Regions from separate parts of the Homo sapiens genome. Here region 1 is linked to region 2. Evidence: fine-mapped expression QTL. Tissue or cell type: whole blood. Region 2 holds a variant in brackets; the other region holds the start of a gene. All regions are shown on one strand. Distances are between the middles of the regions.

Evidence for each region. PIP is the estimated chance that this variant, and not a neighbour inherited with it, causes the effect.
Region 1: FAM111B starts here. The variant in region 2 is fine-mapped to the expression of FAM111B in whole blood (TOPMed, PIP above 0.99).

The regions. Positions count from the first base shown.
Region 1 is chr11:59,102,629-59,110,735 of GRCh38, reverse strand. It overlaps FAM111B (FAM111 trypsin like peptidase B), which reads right to left and starts at 3,499. Exons shown (of 4, transcript NM_198947.4): 1 at 3,440-3,499; 2 at 2,024-2,068; 3 at 1,030-1,196. The coding sequence starts at 1,110. LOC105369315 (a long non-coding RNA gene) reads left to right here and starts at 4,011. Exons shown (of 3, transcript XR_007062680.1): 1 at 4,011-8,107. RefSeq lists enhancers at 2,331-2,380, 3,521-3,610, 8,086-8,107, 7,716-8,107.
Region 2 is chr11:59,266,900-59,275,006 of GRCh38, reverse strand. No RefSeq gene overlaps it. Among named protein-coding and RNA genes, the nearest start is that of MPEG1, 58 kb to the right of the region's middle. RefSeq lists an enhancer at 1,808-1,857. The variant C/T (reference allele first, on the strand shown) is at 3,604.

The DNA.
Region 1 (8,107 bases), 160 kb after region 2:
GTGAAATGTTATTCATTCTTTTTAAAAAATAACTTAGTTTTAGACATACAAAATGCATAATTAATGTACATAATTAATGTATGCAACTTGATGAGTATGGAGATACATTATCACCACAATCTATGCCATCAACCTATCTATCACCTCCCAAAGTCTCTTCCTGCCCTCTTATTATTTTTGTAATTAGAACACTTAACATAAGATCTATCATTTTAGCAAGAACTTGAGTATACAACAGTGTTATTAACTATAGGCACCCATGCTGTACAGATCCCTAGAACTTATTCACCTTGTATAAGGAAACTTTGTACCCCTTGACTAATACCTCCATTTTTCTCTATTCCCAGCCCAACAACCACTTCGACACCTATGAGTTTGACAATTTTAGATTTATTATTCATTAATAAATCATTTCTCATATGACGCTGCTGTAGTTTCCTAAGTCTGAATTAAGCATTCTTCTCTCTGTACTCTAAAATCACTTGTTTATGTCTCAATTTTGTATTATCATTTTGCATATTTTGAGCAAAATAGTGTGGGTCAAAAACCAGTCTCTGCAGTCTGATGGACTAGGTTTAAATCCTTGCTCTGAAGTCCATTACTTCTGCAACTATAAGCAAGTTGAGCTTCAGTTTCTTCTTTTATAAAATAAGTATGATAATAATACCTACTGCATAGTTCTATTAAGTGTTAAATGAGATAATACATATGATGGGACACAATTCTAGGCACACAGTGTTTCCTCAGAAAACATTAGCTAATTATTTTTGCCTGTCTACACTTTCCAAGACTTTAAGTGTCTATATTGTTTGTTAGTCATCTTGTTGTCTTAACATACGTTTAGCATTGTTAACTCTATCATTTTGCTTTCCACAAGCACTTATGTGTATGAGCTCCCCAAATATATTTTAAACTACCTAAGAGAAGGGCTTATAACGACCATTGTTTAAGAACTTATCTCCAAGATCCTCATATGGCACTATAGTTAGACTATCACTCCTCTGAGGAGTTGTAAAAAAGTAGATATACCTTTGAAACTTCAGGTCTAGTCCTCTGGTCATCTTCCATAGCGCTAAATGACTTGTTTTCTTCAGTCTTCATGGAATTCATGATGAGTTCAAAGAGAATGTAACTAACTTCTACTACTCGATAAGATGGAGAAACAAGGATTGAATTTATTCTGCCACCTGAAATGTCTAAAAAAACCAAAAAAACAAGATCTATGAAATAACCACTTTCAAACACTGGAGATCAGGTGGTGTGGGACCTCATCTCTGATATCTGAGAAGAAAATCATATGAGGTAAGCCCTATGGCTATTTAGCTTACTGTATGGAGTTTCCAAGGCATATCTTAGGAAGGAGAAACAGGCAGAGTCTAGTAGTTTCCCTGATTTGAGAAGACAAGCAAGGAGTTTTGGGAGGCCAAGATGACTGGAGCTTGTATGACAGAGTACTAGGGAGAAGACAGCCACAGGAGCACACAGTATGAGAGATCTGCAGTGGGTATCCCTTGAGATTTCAGCTTGGTCAATGCATGAGTGGAACGAAACTGTTGAAAAGGAACAGGAAAAGAAGTACCCAAAAGAAGCAGATGTAACAATTTCTGAGGCTCATACAGGACTGTGTATAATTTCAATTCCCAAAAATCCGACTAGAAAACTTCATAATTCATGAAGTATCAGGGAGACTACTCTGCAAGGTATTTCTTCCGCAGTAGGACAAAATTAGCCCTAGTTCTGCTCCCACCTAATAAATAAAAGCAAGCTTCGAAAGTATAAAATGGTTTCCATGTAAAATATGAACATACTAGAACAAAGCTCAAGAATATTGATAGGAATGTAAAAATTTCTGGCACCCAAAGTTGTGAAATTAACAAAGCTTGATATCTAATAAAAAAATCAGCAGGCACTTAAAAAGTGGATAAATATGACCCATAATGACTAGAAATATCAGTGAATAGAGACAGGTCCAGAAGTGAGAGAGAAGATAGAACTAGCAGTCAGAAACATTAAAAGTCATTACCTTGAATTTCTGGCCAAAATGGAGTAACAGGGACTGGATTTCCCCCTAGTATGAAAACAAAACAAAACAAAAAAGAGCAAAACATATGAAACAATGGTTTGCAAGGAACTGGACATTATGCAATTAAGGACAGTGACAATTGAAATGTATCCTATAATCCACTTTAGCAGACTACCTTGAGGAATTCCAGGCCAGTGTGGCAAGGAAGGGCAGCAAGACAAAACCAGTAGGAATTCCAGATTTAAGGAGACAAAGCTGAGAGACTAAGGTGACAAGAGGTCACAGGCCAAAGACATGGTGGGAGACCTGCACAGAGAGGGAACTCTGGATATATGAAGAGGGTTCCCCTAAAGCATTCAGCTGTGTACTGATCAGAGCAGCAGCTGAGAAAACTTTCCAAGGCCAGGAAAGAACCACCCTAAAACTGTCATAGTCTAACTTTCCACCAACCCTCTCCCTGTAACCCTTTTAGGGATCCCCATTTCCTCATTTCTAGATTAAGGACTTTGGCTCAGATGAAACTTTTATTGTTCGTGTGAATTGGTTCCTCTAAGCTTTTTAAAAAGGATTCCAGATCCCACCCTCACAGACTCTGATTCAGTATGTCGGGGTGTGGCTATGGAATCTGCATTTTTACCTGCCTCACTCCACAACCCCCGCCTCAAAGGCGCACCAAGTTCTTTGAACAGCTGCCTCTGTCACCGCAGGATGACCTCAATGCTTTCCTAAAGCCCCAGAACCTATGAAGGTAACCTGTGCTTGAAGCTGTGCTTGCTTACAGAAACAGAGACTGGATGTCAGTAACCACCGTGCTACAAGATGGGAAACGAACTTAGAAGCGCTACCCTAACCTGAATCCTTGCTGATTACCATACCTCAATCTGTGCCTCGGGGAGAAACGCAGCTTGCTAGGCACATGTAGTGTTGGGTGGCAACAGAAAATAGGAGACTGCCACACTCAGCTGTTTCTGGAAAGCCCCGTCTCTTTCCAGAAATCCTTGCTTTCCAACTACCTGCCCTAAAAGACCTTAAGAAGCACCCTCACACTACACTCCAGGCACTTTGAGCAGGAGCTCTCCTACTCCATTCCTTGATCAGTGAATAGTTTCTGCTCTGCTTAACCGAACCTGGTCTCCTTCTATGGGCGCGAACGGCACCGGGCAGGGAAAGGACCCACCAGGGTCAAACGACCCTCTCGAGATTCAGGAACACCCAGATGATCTCTAAGTATCTCTTCAGGAGTACAACTCTTGGCCTTTGAAGCTGAGACAGGGGGAAGGGAATTACAACGGGCGGCTGCCCAGCTCCCCATCCAAAACCCCCTTGACTTTGGGCTGAGGTCCTTCTGCCTACTGCCCTTGTCAGCCATCCCCCTAAGAACTCCAGGTCCGACCCGGGAAAAGAAAAACCACTCACAGAACCGGAGAGTCTGTCCACACGGTGCAAGTGCCCGTCAGTGCCCGCCGCTCTGGATTTGCAGGTGCTGGAAAGACTGCTCTTTTATATCTCTCAGCTGAACTTTTCCCGCCTAGAAGGGCTCGCCCGTGCGCGGCAGGAGCCTGGGAACTGACACTCTCGCTGGCCAATGGACGAAGAGTCTCTGGAGGCTGTTTTTCTCTCATTGGATGTAAATGACTCATCTCTCATCCACTGTGGAAGCCAATTATCATCACTCCAGACAGTGATTGAAGGGAAGGACCGGATGAGCGCGCAGCGCGCGCAGGTGGGTCTGAAGGCCGGGCCGAGGGTACTGCGCGCCAACCCGCCCACCCTCCCTATTTGTCTGGATGACCCTTCCCGGTCTCAGTGATCCCCTCCCCGGCACCACTCAGTCCACGGCCAGTTCCCGTGTCCCAGGATAAACTAAGCAATCACCGCCCTGCTCTTTCCCGCTCATGGGCGTCCCCTGTCTCCCAGTGGAGGCTAGGGAGGAGCTGCGCGGTAGCTGGGCGGAGTGGGAGGTGCCTGGAGGTTTCGCGCTTTCTCCGACTTTTGATTGCCAGCGCGCTGGCGGGAGCCGCGCGCTGGCGGCAGCTGCAGGGCGAATAGCCCGCCAAGTTGCTTAGGTGTGTGGCAGTTGCTGCCTTTCTGCAGCGGCGGGGTGGGCGACGGTGGCGGGATGAGCATCCAGGCGGGATCCTTTGGCGGCAGCAGCAGAGAGAGCTCCACCCGGATAATGCAGAGGCCCAGGCTCCAGCGGACTTCAAGTCCCAGAGCAGGCTGCACCCGCGTCTGCGTGAAATCTAAAGGGACTTGGCCTGATCACAAATGAGCTAACTTCGCGGCGGGGCTGGCGAACACAGACAATGCCAGCCTGGAGGAGGCAGTGGCCAGCACTGCTTAGGCCTCGTTCCCAGGACGCGCATTACTGAGTGCTGTACTTTACCCTTTGGATGAAGGCTCCAGAGTACGACCTCCCCAAACTGATATCAAAGAAGTGCTTTGCATGGGGCTTGAGAAAACATCTTACTGTTTAAGAAAAGAACGTCTTACTGTCTGAGAAGCTGAATAGAATGAGATGCCATCAGTATTGGGTGTTATTTTTCAGAAGTTGCTCAAAGAAGGAGAGAAGATGGTTAAGTGGGGATGGAGACAATTATTTTGTAACTCATAGAAGGACAGATGTTTATGTAACAGTTGATAGTTTTGGTGGAATAATCATGAGCATGTTTCTGAAATTAATATAAAATATACAGAGACCCCTAAAATCACTGCTTAAATTACACGGGTCTTGAGGTGTTCGGAAAGAGCAAACTTTGGAAGTATAATTGTAAAAATAATGTCATACAGACAAAGAGAAGAGAAAACTTAACGACAGCTTTCTTAAATCGCTGTTATTCTTGAATCATCTGAAAGCAGTACACGTGCCTGGCACCAATATACATCAGAGAGTAAATCATTGCACAAGGAGACTTGATCTTCTTTTTTTGTAGAATCTGGAGGAAACAAATCTATGAAAAGCAAGAGATGGTAGAGAATGGTGTTGTCGAAATTGCCTGACATCATTGGAGATAGAGAATTTGCCCTGGTAAAAGGTGCTCCTCAGGGAGGAGCATCTGCACATTCCATTAGCATAAAGCCCCTGGTGGGCCATATGAAGAAGTCTGGATTTTGCTATAAATGTGAAATTTATTTTAAATGGAGGATTTGAAGCAGGGGGGTAATATACCCTGACATATTTTAAAAAATCACCCTAGCAGCGTTTGTGCGGGGTAAAGACTCTGGGAGGACAAGAAGAGATGTGGAAGGGAGAAGGCAGCTAAGAGTCTGTCCCAGGATTGCAAAGATGTTGGAGCCCGACCTCAGATGGTAATGGTGGAAGTGTTAGAAATGGCTGGATTCCACATTTATTTTGAAGGGCCAGCCCTTGGAATTTGCTTATGGATGTTCCATAAATAAGAGAAACAGAGGGCTCAATGACGATTCCTGGGCTTTTGACTTGAGCAACTAGAAGGATGGGGAAGTCTGAGGACAGAGATGCTGTGTGTGTCAGGAGTGGGGTGTGTGTGTGTGTGTGTGTGTAAAATTCTACTTTTGACATGTCGAATTGGAGATGCTAATCCACTCCAACTGAAAAATAAGGAGGGAAGTGGACATTCAACACATGATGACAGGAAGACAGGGAAGCTGGGACTTATGATGGTAACAATGTTGGCCATTAACTGAGAATTTTTTTTTTTTTTGACACAGAGTCTTGCTCTATTGCTCAGGCTGGAGTGCAGTGGCATGATGTCGGTTCACTGCAACCTCCACCTCCTGTGTTCAAGCGATTCTCATACCTCAGCCTCCTGAGCAGCTGGGATTACAGGAGCCTGCCACCATGCCCAGCTAACTTTTGTTTTTCTAGTGGAGATGGGGTTTCATCATGTTGGCCAGGCTGGGGTCGAACTCCTGGCCTCAGGTGCTCTGCCTGCCTCAGCCTCCCAAAGTACTGGGATTACAGATGTAAGCCACCACGTCAGGCCTAAGAAATATAATTAAAGTACAGGGAAAATTAAAAGAAAGTTCACAGAGAGATATCACGGCAAATGATAAATACAAAAGCCTGCCTTGTTTCCCATACCCCCTGTGTCTTAGATTCCCTGAATTTTACCTCCCAGTGGACCGTGCTTGTCCCTTTGTAATGGCGCTCCAAGCAGCACTGCTGCACACCAATTCCTGAGCTTCCCTGCTTCTTGAGCTTAGGAATAGTTGTGCTTCTATTTCCTGTTTATTTGCTCATCACTGGAGTAGCAACTGAACCACACAATTGGGATAAGTACCCTGAGGCCATTTTGGGAGTAATCTTCCATTTCTTCCTTACGTATAAAACTGCCCCTCACAGAGAAACTGTCTAGAGTGATAGGTCCAGAGTAGAGCTCTAGCTTTGCTTTACCCTTTGCAGCTGTGCTCTGAGAGCTTTGATGCAATCCCACTGCAACTGGAATCAGTGACAGAGTAGGGATGCTCAGGGAATCTGTTGGGCCACCAAAGAAAACTCACTTCTAGCTAATGCTTATCTGGGGCTATGGAAGTTGTCTAACATCCCTGGGGACAGAGTGTTTGCCCTGAAAAGGAACATTCCCTTGGCACAAAGTATCCTGTTGGCTGGATTTTATTATAAATGTGACAAGAATGCTTTTGGCCAGTAACTGGTGGTTGGGTCAGTTTGTGTTTTGTAAACCCATAAAGAGGAAAAGGCTCTCATGTGGTTGGGAGAGGTGGGAATGGATCATGCACTAAGGTCAGGTCTGGTGAAGTTAGGGAATAAGGCCAGTGTTTACGAAGAGTGATTCCTTCATGAACCCCTAAAAGATGCTCTGGAACACTACCAGTAGGATGATGTCTGTATGTAGAGGTGCAGATGACATGTTCTCGGAATACAGAGGAAGGCACCACTGCCTCTACCTTGAGAGTATATCACAGAGAAAGATTTATATTTGGACTAGATGGCTGAGAGATGAGTAGGAGTTTGATAGAAGAGAGCATGGAAACTGGCTGTACAACGGCAGAAAGGGCAGGAAAGGCTGAGGAGAATTGGCCTCTGGGGGTGGGTTATAGATATGGGCCTGGGCACCACATTCTGGAGCTTGCAATGGGGTATGTAAAAGCTTAGATGGGATGGTCTTTTCCTCTCCTCCCATGGGTTCATAGTTGGCCCACCTCACTCACTGCTGCAAACAAGCTGCCCCCATTTGAGAGAGAGCTGGAGTGGGGTCTCTAAGCCTCCAGCAACCACTTAGGAGCTAGCCTTGATGCCCCAGCAGCTAACCTCATGGAGACCCCATAGTCCATCCTATCTTGGGAAGACAATGCAGGCATGGGGAAGGTAACATTCCCCTCCAGACTCCAGAGGCTCCAAGGAGCCTCTCTCTCTCTTCAAGAAAAGAAATAGTCACTGAGCCACGGGTGGAGGTGAACATGGTTTGGGACCAACAGGCGGCTGGATGGTTTCACCTCCACGGTCATACAATGGTACTGGGAGATGAATGGGGGTAGGGCGATCTAGAATTAGTTCAACCTCAACTTCCAGTGGGGTGGTGCTTGGAGTTGACTCATTGTGGCCCCATTTAATATTCGCAGTCACCAGTTGGGGTAGGTGGGACTGTTGCTCCCATTTCACAGATCAGGACAGGATAGTTTGCTAGAGGTCACAGGACTAGTTGGGGAAAGGAAAGGGTGTCAGGTAGGATTTTAACCTTAGAGCCTCACGTTTTCTTAGGCTCTTTCAGGGGGACCTTGGGCAAATTCCGTTCTCTCTTGGTGGGGGGGGGTCTCCATTCCTTATTTGTAAATTAAGGAGTTCTTCCAGTTTGTGATTCTCTGTACTTTAACTTGGATAGGTTTTGTAAAATGGGGATTATGGGAACCCCACTATATTTAAGTAGAGTAGGTCTGGGGTGAGGCCCAGTAATCTGCAGCTTTGAACAAACCTCGGCATCCACAAAACTGGCTGAGATACTCAGGGAAAGTTTATGATGCATGAAAATCTTATTGCGAGCTGTCCAAAACACATAACACTGAGCTCCATCTGCAGAGATCCTGTTTTGATACCCTTGGTTGGACTGTGGCTGGGTAATTTGCATTTGTCAGAAGTGAGGCCAG
Region 2 (8,107 bases):
TCCTGAGCCTCCTCCTGATCGCTGTTGTAAAAGACCAAGGTGATCACATTTAGGTGGTTTTCTAAAGTGCTACCTGGTCCTATGGTCTGTTTTTGTAGCTTCCTCCTGATATCAGGTGTTGCCTGAATAATAACTTTATCATATAGGATTAGTTGTCTCTCTACTGAATCAGGTGATAGAGAGGTATGCTTCATCAAGTCCTCTCTTAGCCTTTCCAGAAAGCCAGAGGGATTCTCATCTAATCTCTGGTCAATCACAGTTTTGAGTAATTGAAAGGCTTAGCTCTAGTCCTTCCTAAGCCCTCCAATATGCACACCTGAAAGTGTTTCCTCCTCCATTCTCCCATGTTATCATCATGGTCCCATTTAGGGTCCTACAATGGTATCGCCGTCTTTCCAATTGAATAAGGTGCCTTGTCTTCTCTGGCACTATATGAGGTACAAAGCTCATTTCCAAATTTCTCTGCAACTTGCAGGGAGGCTGTTTCTCCACAGTGGTCAGGGTTTGCTTTAAGAGAAATATAATGTCCTTCCAGGAGAGTTCAAATACTTGGGTTAAATCCTGGAAGGCCTTTATATACCTGCCAGGGTTGCCTGAAAATCTACCAAGAGTTCCCTTTATTTGTCTTAAGTCTTGTAGAGAAAAGGGAACCTGTACCTTAATAGGGCCATATTCACAAGGCATTTCTTGTATGGGCATCAGGGAGGCTGGCACTCACCTAGAACAAAAATGTCTATGGTGGGGCAAGTTTAAGGGGGGACCTGGACAGGGTCGATAGGATTGACCCAGAGAACTGGCTTCAGGGGCTGGCGCCTTTTCTGTGGGCGTTCTAGGGTTTGTTTCCCTGGTCCACTAGGACTGTCCTTTGTGGGGTTTTTTGATATAACAATTAGGAGGGCTGGGTGAACTTTACAGTGTTAACAGAGGTCTGGGTTATCCTGGGTGAGCCCCTAAGAAATGTTGCAGTTTCCTTACTCTGTATTTTAGTAAGTTCCAAGTTCTTGTCTCGTGGCCACGAAGAAAGAGGTATGCGGATACAGGAGGGTGGGTAAGGGAGAGTCGAGTTTTATTAAGTGACAGAAAGACAGCTCTCAGTAAAGAGAGGGGACCTGAAAGTAGGTTGCTGCTGACCAGCTCATCCAAGGGTTTTTATCCCTCCTTTCTAGAGATGTTTTTCTCATTTGCATCTTACATAACCTCCTACTTCCAAGTTCCTTCCTAGTTCCACTTCTTACTGTGCAGGTGCCTTCTTGTCCACAGTTACTCCATTGTAATTATTACCCATAGGCACTACAGAAAAGCCCAGTTGGGGGTGGGGGTGGTGGTAAAACTGCAACGTAGATGTCATGTTCATGATATTATAATAAGCTGGGTCAAGTTAAGGACATTTAGTTGATTTATTGTGCTTGTGCCTAAGTTGAGACAGTCCATTCTGAGCAAACATCCTGGTATAAGAGGAAGTTCTTAACCACATCTCCACCTGCTAGCTACGTAACAGGGGAAGAATATACTTCCCTGTGGGTGTTGTTCTCTCCAGAGACTCTCCATCTCTACCTGCCTAGCCAGCCCCTAACTGCCTCCTCTCACAAAAGGTACAGTGACCGGCCCTAGGTCATGCAGAAATTTGGCTGGCAGAGGGGACAAGACCTGCATGAGGCCTAGGGACAGAACATTTTAAGGCCAAAGCCAATGCATAAAGCTGAGCCCTTACACCTGTGCTGGATGAAATCCCAACCCTACAATAAGAAGTTACTTCCTCTGACAACACCTGGGTTCACTGAAAAAAGAGGAGACAGAAAGCCTCCCGCAAACCCAGCTCAGGATGATGTGTCTTGCCTTGTAGTCAGCTTTGCCCTCCCTCAGTGGGAAAAGGGGCCAAGTTCAGTGCTGCCAGCAAACACAGGGCTGGCCTGGTGACCGCTGTTTACAGCTTGCACTGGGGCCCAGGGAAAATGGCAGGGAAGGGTCCCAACTGGGCCACTTTAAGAACACACAACCCCAAACACAAGGAAAGGGTGAAGGGACTTATTTGGGAATTTCCAGCTGGAGGAAATGGGTTTTCTTGGTTTCTGTTCTGGGGGGTCTGAGAACATGGAACTCCAGTTCATCGAGGTGTGGGGTGTATCGAGGAGGAACCAGCTTACAGGGGGCCAGCCGCAGTGCCTCAGTTCCCAAGAACAGGCCACACTCCTGGGCTCTTCCTCAGGCTTCTGGCACGGATGCCTCACAGCTGCACACTGGCACCTGAGAGACAATTACTCGGTTTTTCTGTAATGATGATTGCTATTCTGAAGATCATGTTCATGGATATACTGACAAGTTTTGACTTTTCTGTTTCTTTTAAGAAACTGTTCCGGGGAGTCCTGCATTAGAACAATGTGGGTGCCCTTGCTCTGGGTGGGAGGAAATTTTAGCATCTTGGTCCCAGCTGGCCAAGCTGAGGATGGACTTGGCCATGAACCCAACATGTGGTTCAGCCCCAGCGGGGATTTGCCAGGACAAACCAGGGGGGAAGGTTCAATCCGGCGTGGTAGAAAAGCAGCTGCCCACCTGGAGTTGTATATAGAAGTGGGCTTCCAGTCCCTTCAACTCTGTGAGCCTCTCTCCAATGTATGTGCCTGAGAAATAAACAAGTGAGGAGACTCATCTTGACTGTGTAAAGTGGGTGTCCCCCAAGCATACCTGTCACACCTGGAAGAGAAGAGAGGGACTTGTGACCTAAGTGGCTCAGAAACTTGCAGTGTAGGGTGCTGGATAGGATGGGGTTCTGGCAAGGAAGAGTAGACAGGAGCTGCTGGAGGGGAAAGGAACATTGACCAAGCACCTACTGGGCACCAGGCACATCCTGTGAGCTCCTGTAATCCTCATATCTAGTGGGTGTGTCTATGTGTGTGTTTGTGTGTGTGCACATGACATCCCAAGGTCAAGCCAGCATCTGTCCAACTCAACGCTCGTGTCCTATCTTCAGGCTGCTGCTCTCTACAGTTGATTGGTCTGGTCAGCTGACAGTAGAAGTTGTCCCCTGGGAGGTTGCACACACTATTTCTGCGATGTCCCATTGCTCCAAACACCTGGCATGGGCAAGAGGCTCCAGGGATGCTGGACTATGGGGTAAGACCCTCCCCAGATTTGAATTTTCCCTCAGCTGCTCATCAGGTCAGCGACCTCACAAATGACTCAGAGTCTCTGAGCCTCACTCTCCTTACCTGTGAAGGTTTATCTCCCTCCCCCAGGGTGTTCATGGAGATTGAACAGGGTAATGGCCTTCTGGGGAGTGATCACCCCAGGTCCTGATGCACTAGCTGATACCTCCATTCCCTTCCCTGAGTGGCAGCCACCTCGAGCCCACGATGACAGCTTGTGACTTTGCATTGATGCTTGTTTATTTATTATTCCAGGTTCAGCCAAAAATCCAGCCCCTCTCAAAGGACAAAGATCAACCTTCCAGAACAATTAGCAAACACTTCTCAGAGTCCTCCATGCTGTGCAGATGGTAAGCATCTCTGGGAGTCTCGCCAGCACTGTGAGTAAGGCAGCCTTTTTACCCATTTCACAGAAGGAGAAACTAAGGCTTAGTAAGGTCAAGTAACTAATTCTGCCTCC[C/T]ACACTTCACTCCCTAGAGTTTTATGTGTGCATCTGTTAAAGTTCTCCTTTTATCGCCAGCAGTGTTTATGTATAATTAAAATAGCTCACATCTGTTGATTAACAGTCACATTACAACCTGCATTAACTCTTCCACTTAATGCCTGTTAAAGGATTAGCAAACCATTTTACAGATGAGGAAGGCAGGGCACAGAGAATTAATGTCCACACCATGCTTATCAGTGAGTGGAGCAGGGATTCAAACCTAGACCTTCTGGGTCTAGAGCCCTCCTCAGCCATCACCTCTCATTCTCCATTAGAGTTGGTTATCATGTGAGTTGAGGCCCAAAGGTTAATGGAAGTTATTATTCTTCTTCACCACCAATTGAACTTTTTATCTTTACCTACTGTCCTCTTCATCCTTTTAATGCTTTGTACCCTAAAATCCGCTTAGATATTAACTTTGCCAGTTCTTTCTTTTTGGTTACATGTGCCAGGTATACTTTGTCAAACTTTTAATTTTGGGTGTTTTGCTTTGTTTTTTGTTGGTGAGACAAGATCTCACTCTGTCGCCCAGGCTGGAGTGCAGTGGTGCAATCTGGGCTCACTGCAACCCCCGCCTCCTGGGCATAAGCAATCTTCCTGCCTTGGCCTCCCAAGTAGCTGAGACCACAGGCACGAGCCACCACACCCAGCTAACTACTTGTAATTTTTTTGATAGAGACAGGTCTTGCCATGTCACTCAGACTGATCTCAAAACTCCTGGGCTCAGGCGACCCACCCACCTTGGCCTCCCAAAGTGCTGGGATTATAGGTGTGAGCCACTGCACCTGACCCAATTTGTAATTTTGAACCTCTTCTTACTATCCTGTTTCAGTTTTTTTTTTGTAAACAACTATAGCTGGATTTTGTTTTCTAACCCAGTCTAAAGCAGTCTCAGATTTTGTTAGAACAACTGAAGGATCTGACATTTGTATGTCACTTTATTCTATGTGAATGGTTTATTTTACTCCTTTTTCCATAGTTTTGATGGTTTGGGCAAATTACTATTTATTCTCTTTCTAATTGTCAATCTATCATTACAGCAAATGGTTGCTTCCTGATCATTATATAGAAACAGGGTAAGCACCTGCCTCCCGCTAGGACTCTCTCTGCTTCCTTCCGCCCTACCCACCCCAGTAAGAGCTACCCAAGAAGGCTCCTATCCCTGCCACCTTCCACTGATATTTTCCTATAAACTGTGAGACTCAACTAACAAGGATTCCCTCTCCTTCCAACTTGGGGTCCCTATTCTGATCAACTGCCATTTCATTAGGGCCTTTCTTGATGATTTCCTTCATACGTAACACAAGCGGGAATATCCTCTGAATTTCGCTTGCTCGTCTGCAAAATATATTTCTTAGTCTGGTCAGGGAATGGTATTAATGCTCTGGTGAGGCTTCCTGGGCCCAGGCCAGCCAGAGTCCTCCGGTTTTCAGTGCTGCAAATGAGGAATCTGCTGCCAATGTGTTTCTTTTCTTCCTCCTTTGTCAATTATCTATTTATTCTGCTGGGAAGCCTCTTTGATTTTATCTGTAGCTTTCAAGAATGTCACCAGGAGATGCCAAGGGTGTATCTTTTTCTTCAATGTAACCCTGCCTGGAACTCTAACAACCTTTTCAATGTGCAAACTCATGCCCTCTTCTGATCAGGGAAAATTTCTACTATTATTTATTGATCATATTTGCCATGTCCAGACCTGCTTCCTCTTCTCCTTCCACAGCCCCTAACATTCACAGGTAGATGAAAAGACATCCACCAAACCTATATTTTCTTTCGTGACTTCCACCTGTGTTTCTGGTTTTCTGGGAGGCCTTTGTTTCCCAGAAACAGGAAAACCATCCTCTTTTCCACTTGATGTTTTGAATTTTCTAAATTTGAAAATCCTAGTTCTAGAACCTGTTTTCTTGGGCAGTATCTGGATTTCCCTGGGTTTTTGAAACCTAACACTTGTCCAGTATGTGCCGCTTGGCTTTCCTTTTCCCTCCAGCTGGGGGTCCCTCAAGGCTACTCCATGTCCCCAGCAGCCAGGTCCAGCTGTGGGGTCCCCTTCCAGTGGGTGCACGGTTATGCCTCTGGCCCCTGACCTGCCCTGGGGCAGCAATAGCTTTCAGCAACCTCTGGGACAGAGGGCAAGGGAAGAATAGAGCAGAAAGACTCTAACCTCATCTAAGCCCACTCAGGACTCCAAGGACAGGAATCGATTCACACTTTCTCTTCTGACTTGTTTTTGTAGAGATAAGGTTTTGTCACGTTGCCCAGGCTGGGTCTTGAACTCCCAGACTCAAGTGATCCTCCAGCCTTGGCCTCCCAAAGTGCTAGGATTACAGGTGTGAGCCACTGCACCCAGCCAGGTGCCTTTGTAAGAGACCTTAGCCCCCTTGCCTCTTCTGCCATGTGAGGACACAGGGAATCAGAAAGTGGGTCCCTTACCAGACACAAAATCTGCTGGCACCTTGATCTTGGACTTTGTCTCCAGAATTGTGAGAATAAATTTCTGTTTATAAGCCACCCAGTTCATGTTTTTATTTTGTCACAACAGCCAGAATGGACTAAGACATCCTCCCTGGGGAAAGCCCCCACCTCAGCCCCACTGTTTCTCTGCCTTCATCACCCAGCACCCACTGGAATGTCAGCTCCACCAGGGCAGGGCCTTCTTTGTCCCATCCACTGGACAGGACCTGGCTGTGAGTATGGTGGGATCTGCGCATGGGCCTGCTGGCTGACAGCCTGCCCTTCTCCGTGCTGGTGAAAAAGAGGGTTTGTTTGTTATTTCCAGTTTTCTAAAACATATTTTTAGAATTACAAACATCAGAAACACAGTTCCTAGTAGGGCTGCAATGGACCAGAGTAAGATGGAGCCAGGGAGATAGGAGAACACAGCCTGGTTCTCCTCCGGGTGTAGCGTACAGAGCCAGGCCCTGCTGCACCAGCTTTGCCTCCTCCCAACCCAAGCAAGCAGGCAGCCTTGGAGCCCAGCCTCAGTGAGGGGACCCAGGCTCTGGTCTGTCTTGCTGTGTGGCCTTGGCCACAGGTTCCCCTCTCTAGACCTCTGAGGCTGGAGTCGACCGGTGGGTCCCTGTGGGCCTGACTCACTGCCTTGGAAAACAGCCAGGAAGGCAGATTTCCAGGCCCCACCCAAGACCTAAGGAATCAGCCCCAGGGAGCAGGTGAAGATGAAACCTGCATTTAAACTAGCCTGTTTAGTGGTTCTCAGGTGGCTGTGGGGACTGTGGGTTGAGACCGTCTCCAAGGATAGATTCAGGAAGATCCAACTCAAACAGTTTTGCTTTTAAGTCTCAGCTCAGACCCCTCCTGGCTGCATTGACCTATGAGCCTTCTTGCCTCAGGTTTGTCATCTGTGAACCGGGCTGGGGAGGATTCTAGGGGCCGGTCCATGCACATAGATGACCTCACACGAAGCCAGCAGGAAGCAGGGATAGTGCCTGCCCTTCTGTTATAGGGCAAGATGCTCTGGCTCTCCACCCATAGCTGTCCACACCTTTGCAGGAAGTGGATCATACATGTTAATTTACTTAATCAGCTGAAATCCTGAAGGCTTCCTAAGGGCATCCTTTTTTTTTTTGAAACAGAGTCTTGCTCTGTCACCCAGGCTGGAATGCAGTGGCGTGATCTCAGCTCACTGCAAGCTCTGCCTCCTGGGTTCACACCATTCTCCTGTCTCAGCCTCCCGAGTAGCTGGGACTACAGGCGCCTGCCACCACGCCCAGCTAATTTTTTTGTATTTTTTAGTAGAGACGGGGTTTCACCAGGTCATCTTTTCAACTGTCTGGATGGGTTGGGGGAAATCATGGCCCCACAGCGGGGCTCCTGGCCCCAGCTGGCAAAGGTTCCAAATAGCTGCTGAAGACCTAGGAACAGGTCAGGTGGCTTTATGGCCAGGGGCTGGGGCCTGAGCTGTCGGTTTGAGGTTTGGCACTGACAAGTCAAAGTTCTGCCCGACTGGTCTCTTTCTTGCTATGAATAAACACTTGCTGTCGTCTGGATTAATCTCCAGCCTCTCAGCCACTCAGTGGGAGTGAATCCTCCTTGCCAGGGGGTGCCCTCTGGGCCTCAGAGAGTGAAGGACCTGGGACCTCTTGTGGACAATGCATTCAATCCCACAGTTGCCACTATGGTGTGTGAGTTTCTTGCATTGCCATTAGTTGGGAGCATTTAGCTTCCCAGGGCTACCATTCGGGTGAGCTGTGGGCTCCTGGCAGGCTGGGTGCCATGCAGAATCCGCTTGGCCTTCGAGGGGGCCATGAAGACTGAGGAGGCTTGGCCTAGATTATGAGAGGACCAGAAACTCAATGGGGAGTGATCTAAATAGACACAGGGCGAGTGCTTCTTGGATAAAAATAGAGCTGATGGGGGCCTGGGGGTGGGGGCAGGGTGCTCCAGAGCCAGAAGGTCAAAGGGGTGGTGCCGGCCACCTGGTCAGGACATAGAGGGGCCAGCAGGAGGGGCTCAACCTGGCATTTAT